Regions from separate parts of the Homo sapiens genome. Here region 2 is linked to region 1. The links come from fine-mapping of genetic effects on gene expression. Tissue or cell type: monocytes. Region 1 holds a variant in brackets; the other region holds the start of a gene. All regions are shown on one strand. Distances are between the middles of the regions.

Region 1 (8,175 bases):
AAGTGGCCTCTGGGGAATCTGGAGTATGTTCAGCCTGCCGACCGATAACTACGTTCCAGGTGGTGACAAGTATTAGCGTCAACTCAGGTAGATGCCTTTTAAAAACGCCCTGCCAGAAACACCCTAGGGAAAACTGGAGTGAAGAGCGGGTCTTTCAGAACATTTGGTACTTTCTGGATGAATATCTTTTTGATATACCAAGAGGCATCAAGTCAAAGTCTCACTTCTATAGCGAGGAAGCCATTAACTTGCTGAATCCTAAAGGGAAGAATCAAGCCGCAGGCCACAGGCATCCTGGACTTAGCTTACGTGAGTCTTACAAGGCCAGGGGCGGGTCAGAGAAAAGCAGCGGGGTGAAGTGTGGAGTGTGGAAGCAGGGGTGCAGCAGTGTGCTAGATCTGTTTCCTTTGAAGTACAGCAGCTTGGCAGCATGAAGCATGAGTTGTTCCACTGTTCTACTGGGTGTATGGAGCTGGGCCAACAACCTCAGCAGACTATCTAATGTTCTAAGAGCCTTCCTCAAAGAAAATGTTTCAGGACGGGGGAGAAGGCCAGAATGCATCTGCAATTCCAACAGGCATCGCTATGCTCTTCCTTGGTCTGTAAGGACTGGATGCCTGGAGTAGACTGTTTTAAGTACCAAAACAAGACACCCATTTTAGTGTGGAGGAAGACCAGCCTATATGGCCCAGAGCAATAATATTTGGCATGAGTATGCCACTCTTGAGAAAATTCTCCTTAGCTTAGAAAATGCATCTTTCACACAGCTGCTGGGAGAAAACGCTGCAATGCACCAAAGCCTTTAGCCGGTGTACCCAGAATGAGCCTATGTGGGATCAATAGGCACGGGGAGAAAGATGGCAGAGAAGGGAAGAGGAGGGAGGAGGAGGGAAGGAGGAGGAGAAAGAGGTGGAGGAGGGAGGAGGAGCGGAAGGGGAAGGGGGAGGGGTAAGGGCGAGGGCAGAGGAGGAGGGGGAGGGGATGGGGAAGGGGGAAGGGCGAGGGCAGAGGAGGAGAGAAGAGGGAGGGAGGCTGTGGAATGAGACAGCAGAGATGGCGATGAGGTCATCACGCAGGAGGAAATCTCACCCACACGAGGTGGACTTACAGGGCTGTGTGCTGCCTGGGCAGGCTGGACATGTCCAGGGCGGGGAAACCCTGGATATTTCACTCTGAAGTGGTTTCTTGAAAGAAAACTCAACTGACTCAGGCCATGAGCATCTTTTACACTGAAGCAAGCATCTCCTCACAAGTGCCTCCTACAAGTCACTAGAGTCATATTCAACATTACAAAATGCAGTGCTACTTAAATTTTAAAGCACTGAGGGACCAAGAAATGGGCTGATCAAGTCCTTGGCCACTCACTGTTAAGAGCCAGGATTTACAGATCAATGACTGTTCCTATTGTCCAAGAAATAATTTTCTAGCAAAGCATACACACTTTATTAAATTTCACAGCCAGCAGCGCTTTCAGTCCACAACAGATTTCTCAGAGGAAACATGGATATTTTGCGTAGGCAGAAACAGTGAGGAGTACAAAGCAAAGCTATAAATACCACCAATGGTTCTGCTATGTGCATCCGATATTTTTTGCCCGATCTGAAATACTGCAAGGGCTTAACCATTCAAACACCGCATGACAACGAACCCAGTGGACTGTGAAACTCAGGCTGCAGGAGGGTGGCTTGTCAGCTGGTGAAGCCACTTGGCTTTGGACTCCATCGGTCATCTTTACGCAAGAGCAGAGATGAACGGTGGGTCACGGCTATGACGTGAAGGAGAAAGAGAAGACACACTCACAGAACAGGATGGAGAGCTTCAATAATTTTTTAAAAGCTTGGAACCACCACCTGCTTTCCCAATCTTGGGCTGGGGTTTTGACTTTTCTTGATCATCAATCTGACTTGAAGCCTTTTACCAGTTACAATACAGACATGGCCAGATGACCTGCTTGTTAGGAAGGCTGTGGCCATCTTTGTTTCTGAAACAGTCTTATCTCATCTGTCCACTGCTGCTCTGGAAGGGTCAGGACCAGCACTGCAGACACTCGGCCATGCTGTGAGTGAGCCCAGACATACGCGTGGAATCTGAACACCCAACGCTGGCGTTCCCGTGCCAGTCTGAGGGCTGCGGCTCCAGCGCTTGTCCACACACACGCCTGCCTCTCTCTAGTTCCTCCACTGCCTGGCTTCCTCGCTTGCAAAACCCAGCATGTGAAATGAGGACACCTCCACGGAGACCCTTCCGAGCAGGGAGGTTTCATCACACCTTTCGTTCTTGCCAAGGAGTCTATCGCCTCATCCACAACATCTGCTTGCGGGAGAAACAGCAAATGTGTCCCTCTGAGGGAAGGACTGAGGAGGGCTTTGGTAGTCACAGATTGAGACACATTTCTGCGAAAACTGGTATTATGTTTCTGCACAGGAAAACAAAGTGTTAAAAATATTCCCATCCTCCCTCCAACTCCCTTCTGTCACACAGTCCCAAGTGAACTTGAAAAAGGTCCAGAAGTGAACACTTAGGGTGCATTTACCTTTCTCCTGAAGATGGGAAGACACACGGATGCTTGCCTAAAATATCTGCCGAGAGGTGAGCAGCTGTGGCCTGGGAAGGCGCTTGCTCTTCCTCCACATCAGCCAGAAGGCAGATCACACCTTCAGAGCACCCTACAGAACCCAGATGGCGAATCAAAGTGCAGAAAAAGAACACCCGCTTCCTCATTAGTCATTTAGGAAGATAAGATAGCATGGGACAGGGAGAACAACCATGTTCTGAATGGAGACTTTTTCAGGTTCCCAAACTTGGGACAGTGAGTGTGACCCCACATCCTGTGGTTTCTGCCTGACCCTTCTAAGCCAGAGGTGAGAAAACAACTCCCAGAGACCACGACTCTCACCCTCGGAGGTACCTGTTCCCCTGCAGGTGTGGCTCTCTGACAACCCCTAGGCAGGGGTGGGCTCCAGCTTTTGGAAGCAACCCTACCTAGCTGGCCCCCCAAGCATTAAGAAGCTTCCCTGATGGGGCCATGTTTTGGTCTCCTTTTAAGCCCTCAGTCACAATGTACCTTCTGAGCTTGTCCTACTATTCAGATGATTTTCTCTCTGAGTTGCAATACTGCTCAATTTAGGTGGCTACCTGTGTTCATTCAAGCTCTGGAAGTGTGGAAGGGAACTTAATCATTGAGTTTCTGTGAAGTATTTTGCCATCCTAAAATCCCTGAGAGTGAAACTGTTGAATCATGCTCACTTTCTTCACATACATACTCTTGGACTATGGGGACCAAGTCTGTTGAATTCATCTATTTAGAAATCCTACTAGCCTACAGGAAAAGCTTTTTAATGGGGATGATTTGCTTGGACTTAAGTATTTGCTTAAATACTACCTATTCTGCCCCCAGCTGCTCCTTGAGGAAAACTTTCCATTTCCCCCAAAATTCTGATCAAACACAACAAAGCCACAAGCATGAAGGGAAGCCAGACAGTGCTGCTCTGGGCTGTCAGGGAGTGGATGTCCAGGCAACGCCACAGGATAATGCTTTTTGAACTTAAAAATACATTTCTTTCCATCCATCAGGCAACATCTCAGTCAGAAAACCACCTCCCACCACCTGTGCTGTGCCACAGGGCATGATCCTGACAGCGACATCACAGCCTTCTTTTCCTGTTGGAAAGAAGACCACTGGGCCTCAGGAGCTGCTGTCCTGGTCACTCTCAGCATCTGGAATAAGGGTCTGGGGCAAAGCCGAGGGCAGGAATCCTGGGGCAGGTGCTACATCCTAAACTGGGTTTTGACTTTGCTTTCCAAAGT[CACCTGTT/T]TTCGTTCATTTTTGTCTCCCAAACAGGCAATGGCACTCTCCCCGCCCTTCTTCTTAAGTCCCAGGGTCCTCAGTAGACATTTCCTAAAGCATCAGACAGACACCTCGCACCCTCCTTCCCCCTCCACCAGCCGTCCTTGCTACACTTCCCCACACATGGGGTCACAACTGCATACACCTTAGAGCTCCGAAATGAAGAAGAAAAAAAGAAACCTAAATTAAAAATGAATTCTTCCTTTTCTCTTCCTCTCCTCCTCCCTGTGCCCGCCCTCCCATTCCCGCCTGAAAGAGGATCCAGCTGCCTCTAAACAGCCACAGATCGTTTCCATAAAAGAGAGTACAAAATCAGGTTTCCGCGGCACTGTGCTCCAGCCATGTGCCCTGGTGTCACTGTCGGTGGTGCCAATAGTTCACTGTAGGAGCTGCTCCTGCTGTCCAATAGGACTATGAATAAGTTAACAGTTTCCTTGGACAGTGCCATCCTCAGGGTCGGCTCTGTCACACGGCGCCTTCCCACTCGCCCTGGGGCTCCACGGAGCCGTTGGTCACCTTCTTGACTTTCTTCATACTTTCCATCACCCCAGATGTTGTCACACTGAACAAGGAAAGAAAAAACAATTAGGAACATCTCACAGTCTCTTAGTAAAAGGCCATCTCTGCCACAGCACGGTGATTAGGACTGATGATGGGTGTTGGTTTTTGAAACAGACAAAATCTAAGTGTGATTCCTGGTTCGTTCCTTACTAGCTGTGTAACCTTGGCCAAGTCACTTGAACTCTCTGTGCTTAAGTAATTCTCACTTTCCAGAACTGTCATGAGGAAAAATGAGATTCTCCAGAGTGCCTAATCAATAAACACCAGCTATCGTTATCACAATCATCATGAATCTTTTTGTCACAGCTTGCGGAATTTTTGTGGCGCACAGATATGTGATAGTTACGCTTATGAGACTGAAATCTGACTCTTAATGGACATTCAGAAAAGAAAGCTAATTAGCCAACCAGACATTTTTAATAAGCAGCCACAATGGATCATTTCTGAGCCAGGGGACAGAACCACAGGTTTAGAGGAACCTTCCAGGATCAAAGATTCTTTGGCCACTATAGACAGAGAACTGGCTGCTTTCTGCTAGCTGGGGCTGGGCCATGTGGCTGTGCCTCAGCGCATGGCCTCTGCCTCCACTCTGTGAGCTCCCGGGGCTCTGTCTGTTGGTGCCTGGCTCTGAGGAGGCCCCATGGAGCCATTCGTTGAAATCAAGGATTAAAAATGGAAGATCGCTGGTCTCGCAGGGCATGAGGAGCTGAGCAAGGCAGCCCTTTCCATTAGAAGGAATCACATGCACGGGCCCCACCTTCTCAAGAGGATAATCTCTTGCCTCACAGAAGGTGAGCTGGTCTATGAGGGAACTGGGTGGCTCTGTGAGTAGCAGAACTAGGCAGAGATACTGGGTGTCAAAAGCCGCTTGGCCCAGCATCTTCCCTGCAAGCGAGGAAACAATGAGGATTTATGCTCCCCCATGGTGGACCAAAAGAAATTTCCTCATCAGTAAAATAAATTCAATCAATCAACTCAACAGGCTCTTTCCAAGGACCCAACCCATCCCTCTGCCAACTACCTAACCCCTTCCCCTACAAATGGCAACACAGTGGCCGTATATGTGACCCATCTAGAGTGCATGCAGCTGGACCTCATGGTAAGTAAATGTTTGTATGGGGTAAGGGAAGAAAACTTCCCCCTCTTCTTCATCTCTTCATTCTTGCCATTATGGTGCTACCATGCCCAGGCTCAAAGAATCCCCCAAGCCGGAACCTTTCTCAAACGAGTCCTTTAGACTCACAGGTTATTTGTACTTATGGCAAAGTTGGGACAAGGTATGTGGCCAGATCCCATAGATGCTATAAGTGACTCTAAAAGCATCCCCTAAGACGAAAATGCCTCAGCTGAAGCCGCCCAGCGTCACTTCTGGCCAGCTGGCTTGTGTCTCAGGCCTGGCCTCTTTAGGAAGACACTTGCCCCAGGAGGGATCCATGTGCACAGGGCTGCTCCTGAAGGGACCTTCTCTAGACGGGGATGCAGGAGGTAGGGCCTTTGCATGAGCCAGAGAAGCCCCTGCCCCGAGCCACGTAGCAGCCCCCGTGCCTCTCCACAGTGACTGAGACCACAAAGAAATGCGACCCCACGTCTTCCAGAAACACTCCAGTAATCACACAGCTGTCCTATGGTTACTGCATCTTGTTAAAAAAGGACAAAGAGTTCAATGCACGTTGATTCTAAGAGGCAAAGCGCATTCACTGTGACCCGGATATGGGCCTGACGGCAGACTTGGGAAAAACATTTTCTCCCTTTCTTTCTCTAAGAAAATACTCCTTTCCACATGGTGGGCCAAGTGAGAAAACAACTTTTATTCTTCAAGACAGGCCTCATGCTAGGTCATCAAGGAAAAAGAAGTGGTCTTATTGCTCTTCGGAGCCCACAGCCCAGGAGAAGAGATGGTCTTCCACAGCAACCCTGCAAAGCCACTTCCAACAGAGACAGGAGTGCTGGGAACCGGGTTCGGTGATGGCTCGGGCTGAGAAGAATCCCTCTGCCGGGGAATCGGGGAAGCCAGGAAGCCCGTCATGAGATGCAGAGGATCTGGCCCACAAGATGGGTGGGAGGTCAGGGGAGTTTCCAAAAAGAAGAAATATAACAGGCAAAAAGCATGAAGGAAAAACCCAGGACATTTCCCAGGGCAGTGAGGGAGTGCTAAGTACTTGCAGTGTGTGGATTGTATATGTGTATATATATATAAATATATAAAAATATATATATATTTTTTTTTTATTTGATTTTTTGAGATGAAGTCTCGCTCTGTCACCCAGGCTGGAGTGCAGTGGCGCCATCTCGACTCACTGCAACCTCCGTCTCCTGGGTTCAAGTGATTCTCGTGCCTCAACCTCCCAAGTACCTGGATTATAGGTACATGTCCCCATGCCCAGCTAACTTTTGTATTTTTGGTAGAGATGTGGTTTCACCATGTTGGCGAGACTGGTCTCAAACTCCTGACCTCAGGTGATCCACCTGCCTCGGCCTCCCAAAGTGCTGGGATTACAGGCGTGAGCCACTGCACCTGGCCTACGGCAAATATATTTTAATACATCCAGCCAGTCTGGGAAGGAGAGTGGCAGGGAGAGAACCAGGGTGGACACAGGACGGCAGGGTTGTCGAGGGCCCAGTCTGCCTGGTCACCCAAGGATGGCCTTGATTCCTACTCTGGCAGTTCTCAGCCCTGCCTCCTGCTCAGGCTGCCCTGGGGAGTGAGAAAAGCACAGATCCTGAGCCCAAGGGGTGAGAATCAGAGTCTCCAGGGGTGCGGCCAGGAAACTGGCACTGCAAAAACACTCTACAGGTGATTCTAGAGCCCGGGAGAATGGACAGGAAGGGCTGGGCACACCTGTATTCCCAGGGCAGCTCACGCCTGCATTCCCAGCACTTTGGGCGGCTGAGGCGGGAGGACTGCTTAAGCCCAGCAATTTGAGACCAGCCTGGGCAACATGGCAAAACCCTATCTCTACAAAAAAATACAAAAACATTAGCTGGGCATGGTGGCATTCATCTGTGGTCCCAGCTATTAAGGAGGCTGAGGTGAAAGGATTGCCTGAGCCCGGGGAGCTCAAGCCTGCAGTGAGCTGTGATAGTGCCACTGCACTCCAGCCTGGGTGACAGAGTGAGACCCTGTCTGCAGGGGAATAGAAGGATGGACAGGAAGGGGAGAGGATCGGGAGTGAAGAGGTCAGCCACCACAAAGCCCAGGCACGAGAGCAAGAGGCGGGGTGGGGCTGGGGGTGAGAGGCACAAAGTAAGGCCTACAGGACGCTCTGCACGGGCTGAGGAAGAGGGACGTGGTTCAGCCATGGCTGCAGGAGACTGGGTGGATGTCCGTGTCACCAAGGCCTATAGGGAACAATGGGGAGGGGCGAGCTTGGTGTGATGCAGGAAGACTGTGGCTTCAAGGCTGAGGTGACGCGGAGCAGGAGGACAGGGGGACCTGGCATTCAGGAGGGGCCGGGGGCAGTGAGGGGGTAGCAGGGGCAACCCTGGGCTTGGGTGAGTCCTGGGAGTGCGAAGAGGGAGAACGGGAGTAAGGGTGTGTGGTAGCGCAGGAGGTTGTCACAGGCAGGGCGGGTGACAGGGAGCTTCAGTGTGTGGCCAGGACTGGGAGTGGCAGAAGTGAACTCAAGGAGAGGAAGAAACCTGATGGCAGATGCCCAGGGTGGGGTAGGCGCTACATCCTGTTCCCCCAGCAAACCTCTGGGAAGCTGAAGGGACACCTGGGGCCCCCACGATGTGAGGAAACCTGGCTAGCCCCCTGCAGACAGGGC
Region 2 (8,175 bases), 37 kb before region 1:
CAGGTGTGGTGTTGTACACCCATGGTCCCAGCTACTGGGGAGGCTGAGGCAGGAGGATTGCTTGGACCCAGGAGGTCAAGGTTTAAGTGAGCCATGATTGCACCATTGCACTCCAGTCAGGGCAACACAGCCAGACCCTGTCTCCAAAAAAAAAAAAAAAGAAAGAAAGAAAGAAAGAAAGAAAGAAAGAAAGAAAGAAAGAAAGAAAGAAAGAAAATGAACAAATAAGCATTAATTACGATCACTGGCATTTACTGACCACATACCCCACGCCACATATCAGGCCCCACACTGCACATGAGTTACCCTGTTGACTTCTCACATCCTCTGAGTTCAGGTGCCATGAGCACACCTATTTTGCAGATGAGGAAACTGAGGCTCAGGTAGGTGAGGGGACCGGCCCATCCCACAGCCGGGACACACGGGGAAGCCAACAGCCTCACCAGCAGGTTGGAAGAGAGTGGGCCAGACCTGAAAGAAACTGGGCCGCCCGCAATGCTGACTGCCACTGTCTAAGTCTTGGCTGCAGAGTGACCCTGTCCATCTCTCCCTAACCTGTTGCTGGTGGAAGGCTGAGGACTGGGTTAGGGTTTGAGCCAGGTGGAATCCCAGTGTGTCCAGTGAGGGCCACACTGCTGGGGCCTTTAGACACTCCTGCTTCCTCACACACACAGACCACCACAGACAGAGCCAGAGACGCCCACCAAGGACACTGCCCAGCACCGACTCGGACGTGGACCCATGGCTCCCCTCTAGGCCCCCTTGGCACTGTGGCCAGCTATGCATGAGGTGGGCTAGGACCCCCAGCATACACTGGAACTGTGGTCTTCAATCCGGGCTCCCCAGGACCACCATCTGCAGCACAAACACGTGTCAAGGATGCAAATTCCTGGGCCCCAGCCAGACCTAAAGAATCGGAAATCCGGGAGGGCAGCCCAGGTACCTTCATGTTTATTAATCAACCAGGAGATTCTGACATTTGAGAGTCCTTCCTGGGGCGCTTCTCTTGACCCCATACACAGAATCCCCCAGAACAAAGAGCAGATGGCTCCACTCCCCATCAGAAGGAAGCCCATCTGGGGGCGGGAGAACAAGCTGGAAGCTTTCTCTGCTTGTCCTGTTGGGAGACTTTTCATTCTGTGAACCTACTAAAGGCCAACACATGGGGGGAACACAGCTGTGAGCTCCACACACAAGGGCCTGCACTAGGGAGCTGACGTCAGCGCGGGAGGCAGACAGGAGGCCAATGAACCCACCGCCACCTCCAACGGCCCACCCCTAATAAGGGCTTCGACAGAGGAAAAGTACCCAGGCCAACTCTCTCTCTGCCCAAAACTGTTCCACGTCTCCAAAGGCCTTTAAAAATAGCCCAGCCCAGCACCACAAGGGCCAGTTCCTAACAAAGCTTTGTTGACTCAACTTCTCTTAAAGTTGACAGATCTGCCCGGAGGAGGGGGCCGGACAGGACTATCACCCCAGGCCCTTCCCATTTAGAATCCACCATCATGGGCTTCTAGCAAAAGCCAGAAAAAGACACCCAGCAGAGCTTTTTTTTTTTTTTTTTGGAGACAGAGTTTCCCTCTTGGAGCAATCTCACCTCACCGCAACCTCCGCCTCCCAGGTTCAAGCGATTCTCCTGCCTCAGCCTCCCGAGTAGCTGGGATTACAGGCATGTGCCACCATGCCCAGCTAATTTTGTATTTTTAGTAGAGATGGGGGTTTCTCCACGTTGGTCAGGCTGGTCCACCCGCCTCGGCCTCCCAAAGTGCTGGGATTACAGGCGTGAGCCACTGTGCCTGGCCCAGAAGAGCTCTTGGCACGAGCTCTGAAGTCTCTCACTAGCCTTGGAGCAGGACAGACCGGAGTTCAAGTCCTGGCACTGCCTGGTCACTAGCTGTGGGATCATGGGAATGCCACTTTGCCCCTCTGAGCCTTAGTTTCCCCATCTGTAAATGGAGATCGTAGCAGCACCCAGCCTGGTAGAGCAGTTGTGGCAGAGTCGAGGTGCTAATGATGCCAAGAGCTTGGCACGTGACATGCTCGATGAGCAGGAAACCTGGCTTCACTCCCCTGTCCCACCATGATGGAGGCATCCCGTGCAGCCCATGCCCACCACTCCTGATGGAGCCCACGGTGTCCTCACCCTCCCCCGGCACAGGGACCCAGGAAGTCCACCTGCTGGCGGCTGTGGGCCACATCTGGACTTAGCTTGAAGGAGTCCCCAGCGAATCTCACAAAACAGCAGCCAGACTGGAATGGGCCACCCACCTGCCCACCTTGGAGAGAGGGTGAGAACAGCCCCTGTGCCCAGGGGCTTCACCCCTTCCAGGTAGCAGCTCTTGGGATGTGAGCTCCATGCTGCAGGATTCCACAGGAGAAGGGCCAGCACCTCGCAGCAGACTAGCACCCGCTCAGGAAAGCCCCCTTTGTTCCAAGCATGAGGGGTGAGGGGCATGGAGCTGAAGCGTGGGCTTGGACAGACCTGCAGACGTGCCCAGAAGGCCGATGGAGTGGGGGGAAGCGGGGAGCAGAGGTTGTGCAATGCACCACCAGGAGCTGCCTCCCCAGCCTCCATCAACACATGGGGCTGGCGGTCAAGCTGCTGCCTCCAGGGGTGGTGCAGAGGGCCTGGGCCCACGCAGCTGCCCGGGGATGGGTTCTGAATTCCAACCCAAGCCCAGAACCACTGTCCCCTTCCAAGTCAAACACCCAGGCAGAGGTCCTTCCAGACCCCGATGCTGAAGCCTTCCCTCTGGCAATCCCCTGGGTGGTCTGGACCCATTACCATTAACCCCTGGTATGCCAGGGCACCTCCGGAGAGGCTGCAGGGAAGGGGGAAGCCTGGTATGGAGAAACTAGGACTGCAAGGGGACTGCAGAGTTGTGAAGTTAGGCAAGTGGAGGGAGACACACTGAGGCTGATCTGGAGACGCCCAGAAAGGACAGGCCATCCTCCTCCGGGCAGCCCGCGACAGCTAATGATCACACGCGGCCCAGATGACCCGGGCTGTAGAAACCCACTTCCCGGTGTGGCAGACAGAGATGGGGCCAGGGAGAATCCAGCCTGTAAGTGCTGCAACCCACAGGGTGCCGGGGACCCTTCACCGCCGTCACCGCACGACGAGCGCTGTGCCAAGTCTCGCCACCCCCCCCCCCACACGAACGGGGCCAGGGAGGGGGCGACAGGCCAATCTCGCAGCAGCGGCGGCGGCGGCATCGTGATGCATGAATCACCAGCCCCGCGCGCTCGTGCCAGTCGGCTCCGCGCAGCCGGGCGCCCCCTCCCGGGACCACCGCCCCACCCTGGCAACAGCCCCTGCCCGTTGGGACAGCTCTGCGGAGAGGGGGCCGCCAGGGGGCTGGGGCTGCCCCTCCGGACCTAGGGGTGGCGCCGCGCACGCCGACCGGCGCGCACTCCCCGGGCTGGGGGTGCCAGAACAATGGGGCCGGGCGGGGGGCAGGGGCGCGGCCCGGGAACCTCCGAGGGGTCCACATTGGAGGCCGGGCGGGGAGGACGGAGCGGAGGCGGCAGCGCGGAGCGGGTAGCGCGCGGGTCCGGGGGGCGGGGGCGGGGGCGGTGGGTGTGGGGGTGACCGCGGGGCGCGGGCTGGGGGCTGGGAGCACTCACAGTAGGTCTTCCTGGTCAGCTCCTCCACAACTTCGGGCTTCAACTTGCTGTTGGATTTCCCCATCCTCGGCGGCCGCGGCCCCCGCCCCCCCGGGCCGGACCCGGTTGGGGCGCCCAGCAGGAGCGGCTGGGCCGGGCGGGCCGGGCCGGGGCCGCGCCTTTGTCTGCGGCGCCCGCGCTGCGCTGCGCGGCTGTCGGCGCCGGGGCGCCCGGGGCGTGGGGCGGCCGCTGGGCAGGCCCGGGCGGTCCGGGCGCCGCGGCGCGGGGCTGCCTGGGCTGGGCGCCGGCGCCGGCGCGGTGTGGCCGCGGTCGTCCCTGGTTACTGGGCTCCGCGGCACATGCTCGCTGCTGCCTCCCGCCTGCCGCCGCCCCTGCGCTCCCCGCCTCCCGCCTCCCCCCTCCCGCCCGCACCCGCGCGCCAGGGGTGGACCCGGAGCCGCCACTCAGCGCCCGGCGCCACCTCCCGCCCCGCACCCGCCTGGCCGCGGCCTCCGCCAGCTGGACCCCGGCCTCGCCAGCCAGCCGGAGGGGCGTCCCCTCGGCTCAACGCGGCCCCAGGGCGGGGCAGCCACCCCCGCCACCCCCTCCCCGAATCCAGCCCTGGCGCTCCGGCCCCCGCCGCGGCGGGGAGGGCCCGGAAGATCGGATGTGAATGAGGCCAGGTCCCGGCCCGGAGACATTCATTCATTCGACACGGATTCATGGGGTGCCGGGGACACGGCGGCCCACGGGACAGGAGTGCCCCAGCCCTCGCAGGGCGGGCAGGGGGCTGTGCGGGATGCGGCAGGTAGCGGTGGGAGCACCTACTCTCGGCCTGGGGGCAGGAGACCTCCAAACCCAGGGTCAGGAAGGGAGGTGGATGGAGAAGCGTTCTGGCCCAGGCAACCTGGAGAGGCGGGGAGGCCTGCATGCCCGAGGGAGAGTTCCCCGGCTTGCGGGCTTGCGCACGGCTGCAGGCACAGGGGACCTGGGAGAAGGGCAGGGCCCACGGGGCAGGCCAGGAGAGGCCCCTCGCCGAGGAGCTGGGCCCCTGCCCACCAGCGCCCATGAAAGGACTTCAGCAGAGAGTGATGGGTCAGAGCTGCTGGAGTGACAGGTCAGAGCTGCTCAGAGCTGTTTCTCTGAGCCGAGGCTGGGGTGACAGGCTCCACCTGAATGGACAGAGGCCAGTGGATTCGCGTAGGGGGGTGTGGTTCAGGTGGTAGGTCCAGCATGGCCTTCCCGGTCCACCTCATCCAACATATCATCATATCTTGAGAACTCTCCTATCCTTTTCGGCTTTAGTTTCTCTCCTTCACATCCATCACAAACGTCACCTATGTTTTCTGCATCCTGTTTGTCTCTTCCATGGGAGAACACCCTCCCAGAGGGCAGAGGCATCTCCATAACCCAGAAGGCCGCCTGAGGTGTTACCCAGCAAATCTCTGTGAATGAGCGAAGGACGGAGGAAAGAATGACACCCGGTGCTGGGGCCCTGGGGTAGGGGAGAGAGCGGGGAGGATGAGGCAGCCCTCCCCGGGGCTAGCAGGGATGAGGCAGGAGTGGGGTCTCTTTCTCCCTTCTTTCCACAGTGTTCTAACCTCGGAGGGTCCAGAAAGCTCAGAGGAACCCTGAGCAGGGCCGAGTGCCTTCCAGCTCCCAAATATCTCTCCTGCCTCTAAGCATACTCCATCCACTCCTGCTTTCCCCTGAAGCCCCTGCCCAGGCTGAGCCCCAGGCCCCAGGAAGTCTTCAGATGGGGATGGACTTGCTGGCTTGGGGAGCTCATTCTGCAGAGGAGGTGGGCCCAGTTGGAGGGATCTGGTGTAGACCTGGGAGCAGAATGTCCCAACCTTGAGGACCAACTCAGAGTGGACAGCAGTGAGGGGCCCACAGTGGGGGGCTAACAGTTGACCAGACTGTGCTGAGCATCCTGCCTGGGAGGAGGGAGAGCCAGCACGGGAACCAGGGCCTGGCTGGATGACAGCAGTAGTAGTTAAAGCCCTTTAGAAACCCAGGTGCTCAGGCTGGGTGCAGTGGCTCATGCTGGTAATCCCAGCACTTTGAGAGGCTGAGGTGGAAGGATTACTTGAGCTTAGGAGTTCAAGACCAGCCTGACAGGGGAGACCTCATCTCTACAAAAATTTTTAAAAGTTAGCTGGGCTTGGTGACACATGCCTAACTCCCCGTTACTCGGGTGGCTGAAGTGGAAGGATCACTTGAACCCAGCAGGGCGAGGCTGCAGTGAGCCGTCATTGTGCCACTGCATTCCAGCCTGGGTGACAGAGAAAGACCCTGACTCTCTCTCTCTCTCTCTCTCTCACACACACACACACACACAAACACACACACATGAAAAGAGAAGAGAAAAAAAGAAAGAGAAAGGAAGGAAGGAAGGAGGGAAGGAAGGGAGGGAGGGAGGGAAGGCAGGCCAGGCATGGTGGCTCATGCCTATAATCACAGCACTTTGGGAGGACAAGGCAGGTGGATGGCTCGAGCTCAGGAGTTCAAGACCAGCCTGGGCAACATGGTGAAACCCCATTCCTACAAAAAATACAAAAAAAAATTAACTGGGCATGGTGGCACATGCCTGTAGTCTCAGCTACTCGGGAGGCTGAGGCAGGAGGATTGTTTGAGCCTAGGAGGTAGAGGCTGAAGTAAGCCCTGTTGGCACCACTGTACTCCAGCCTAGGTGATGAGACCCTGTCTCAACACACACACACACACACTCACACACTCACATGCATTCACACACACACACAAGAAACCCAGGTACTCATCCTGTGAGTATTTCTTGCTCACTGCCCCTGTGCCAGGTGCCGTGCTGGGCACTGAGACCAACATGGGAGCTCACGGATCTGACCCGACCTGCTGCACAGCGATCACAAAATCACACTGGCAACAAACACCATGCAAGGAATGGAGAGGGTGGGGGAACATACATGGGAACACCTGCCAAGGAACTCAGGGACTTCACAGATTCATCCCATCATTCGGGACATGTTTACTAAGCACCTACTATGTGCCCTGGGGACATAGACCAGATCCCTGCCATCAGGGACCTTACACTTTCGTGAGGGGAGAGTGCTATAAACAATAAACAACATGCATAAGTGCAGCATAGAAACCAGAAACACGGGGGCGCAGTGGCTCATGCCTGTAATCCCAGCACTTTGGGAGGCCAAGGCGGGCGGATCACGAGGTCAGGAGTTCAAGACCAGCCTGGCCAACATAATGAAACCCCGTCTCTACTAAAAATACAAAAATTAGCCGGGCATGGTGGTGCACGCCTGTAGTCCCAGCTACTTGGGAGGCTGAGACAGGAGAATCACTTGAACCTGGGAGGCAGAGGTTGTGGTGAGCTGAGATCGCACCACTGCATTCCAGCCTGAGTGACAGAGCAAGACTTTGTCTGAAAGAAAGAAAGAAAGAAGGAAAGAAGGAAGGAAGGAAGGAAGGAAGGAAGGAAGGAAGGAAGGAAGGAAGGAAAAGAAAAGAAAAAAGAAACCATAAATACGCTGCATGAGTAGAATGTATCTCACAGGTGAAAGAAGAAAAATGAGGCGGGAAGGAAAATGGGAAGGGCTGAGGGCCGGAGGTGTGTGGTGTTGGCTAGAGAAGGAGCCTCACTGAGAGCAGAGGGGGAGCATCGCCCAGGCCCCGTGGCAGAGCCCAGGTGGAGCCCAGCTGGCCCACGTACAGCCTTGTGTGTGGCCTTGCAGGGGTACAGTAAGGTGGGCTTTAAAGGGCGAGGTGCAGAGTGGGGAGGCAAGGTCAGACTCCCGACTCAAGGGATCTGATGTGCTTAGCCGGCCCCTTCAGCTGCTGCTGCAGGGAGAACTGACTCCAGGCACAGATGGGTAAGAATGGGGAACTGCCAGAGGTCACTGTATCATCAGCCAGGAGGTGGTGGTGGCCACGTGTAGTGTGGCCTTGGAGGACACAGAACTGGCTAGACTCGGTGACATTTTGAGGGTAGTGAGAGCAGGATTCCCTCACTGCTGTCTCCTCTGAGTTGGTCTTCAAGGTTGGGAGACATTCTGCTCCCAAGTCTACACCAGATCCCTCCAGCTGAGGCCCATCCTACCTCCTCTGCAGAATGAGCTCCTCCAGGCCAGCAAGTCCATCCCCATCTGAAGACTTCCTGGGGCCCGGGGGTCAGCCTGGGCAGGGGCTTCAGGGGAAAGCAGGAGTGGATGGAGTATGCTTAGAGGCAGGAGAGACATTTGGGGCTGGAAGGCAGGAGAGACATTTGGGGGCTGGAAGGCAGGAGAGACATTTGGGGGCTGGAAGGTATGAGACGGAGAGAGGGGACTCAAGGACAAGGCCGGGCTTTCTGAGCTGAGCTTATGGAAGAGTGGGGTTTCTATTTGCTAAGATGGGGAGTGGACAGGTTTGGACAGGAAGAGCTGGAATCTTACTGCAGACAGGTGAGGTGTGAAATGCTTACCAGATGTCCAAGTGGTGACGGGAGAAAGCAGGTGGCACAGGCGTCTGGAGTTCAGGGACAGGTCCAGGCTGCAGGTATGCACTGGGAGCCATCCTGGCAGACATGCCCTTTAAAGTCTT

Evidence for each region. PIP is the estimated chance that this variant, and not a neighbour inherited with it, causes the effect.
Region 2: NCS1 starts here. The variant in region 1 is fine-mapped to the expression of NCS1 in monocytes (Quach 2016, PIP 0.95).

The regions. Positions count from the first base shown.
Region 1 is chr9:130,131,259-130,139,433 of GRCh38, reverse strand. GPR107 (G protein-coupled receptor 107) reads right to left here. Exons shown (of 18, transcript NM_020960.5): 18 at 1-4,409. The coding sequence ends at 4,313. Among named protein-coding and RNA genes, the nearest start is that of GPRACR, 8.9 kb to the left of the region's middle. The variant CACCTGTT/T (reference allele first, on the strand shown) is at 3,808.
Region 2 is chr9:130,168,180-130,176,354 of GRCh38, reverse strand. It overlaps NCS1 (neuronal calcium sensor 1), which reads right to left and starts at 3,951. Exons shown (of 8, transcript NM_014286.4): 1 at 3,628-3,951. The coding sequence starts at 3,691. RefSeq lists enhancers at 1,677-2,587, 4,049-4,837 and a silencer at 3,885-3,974.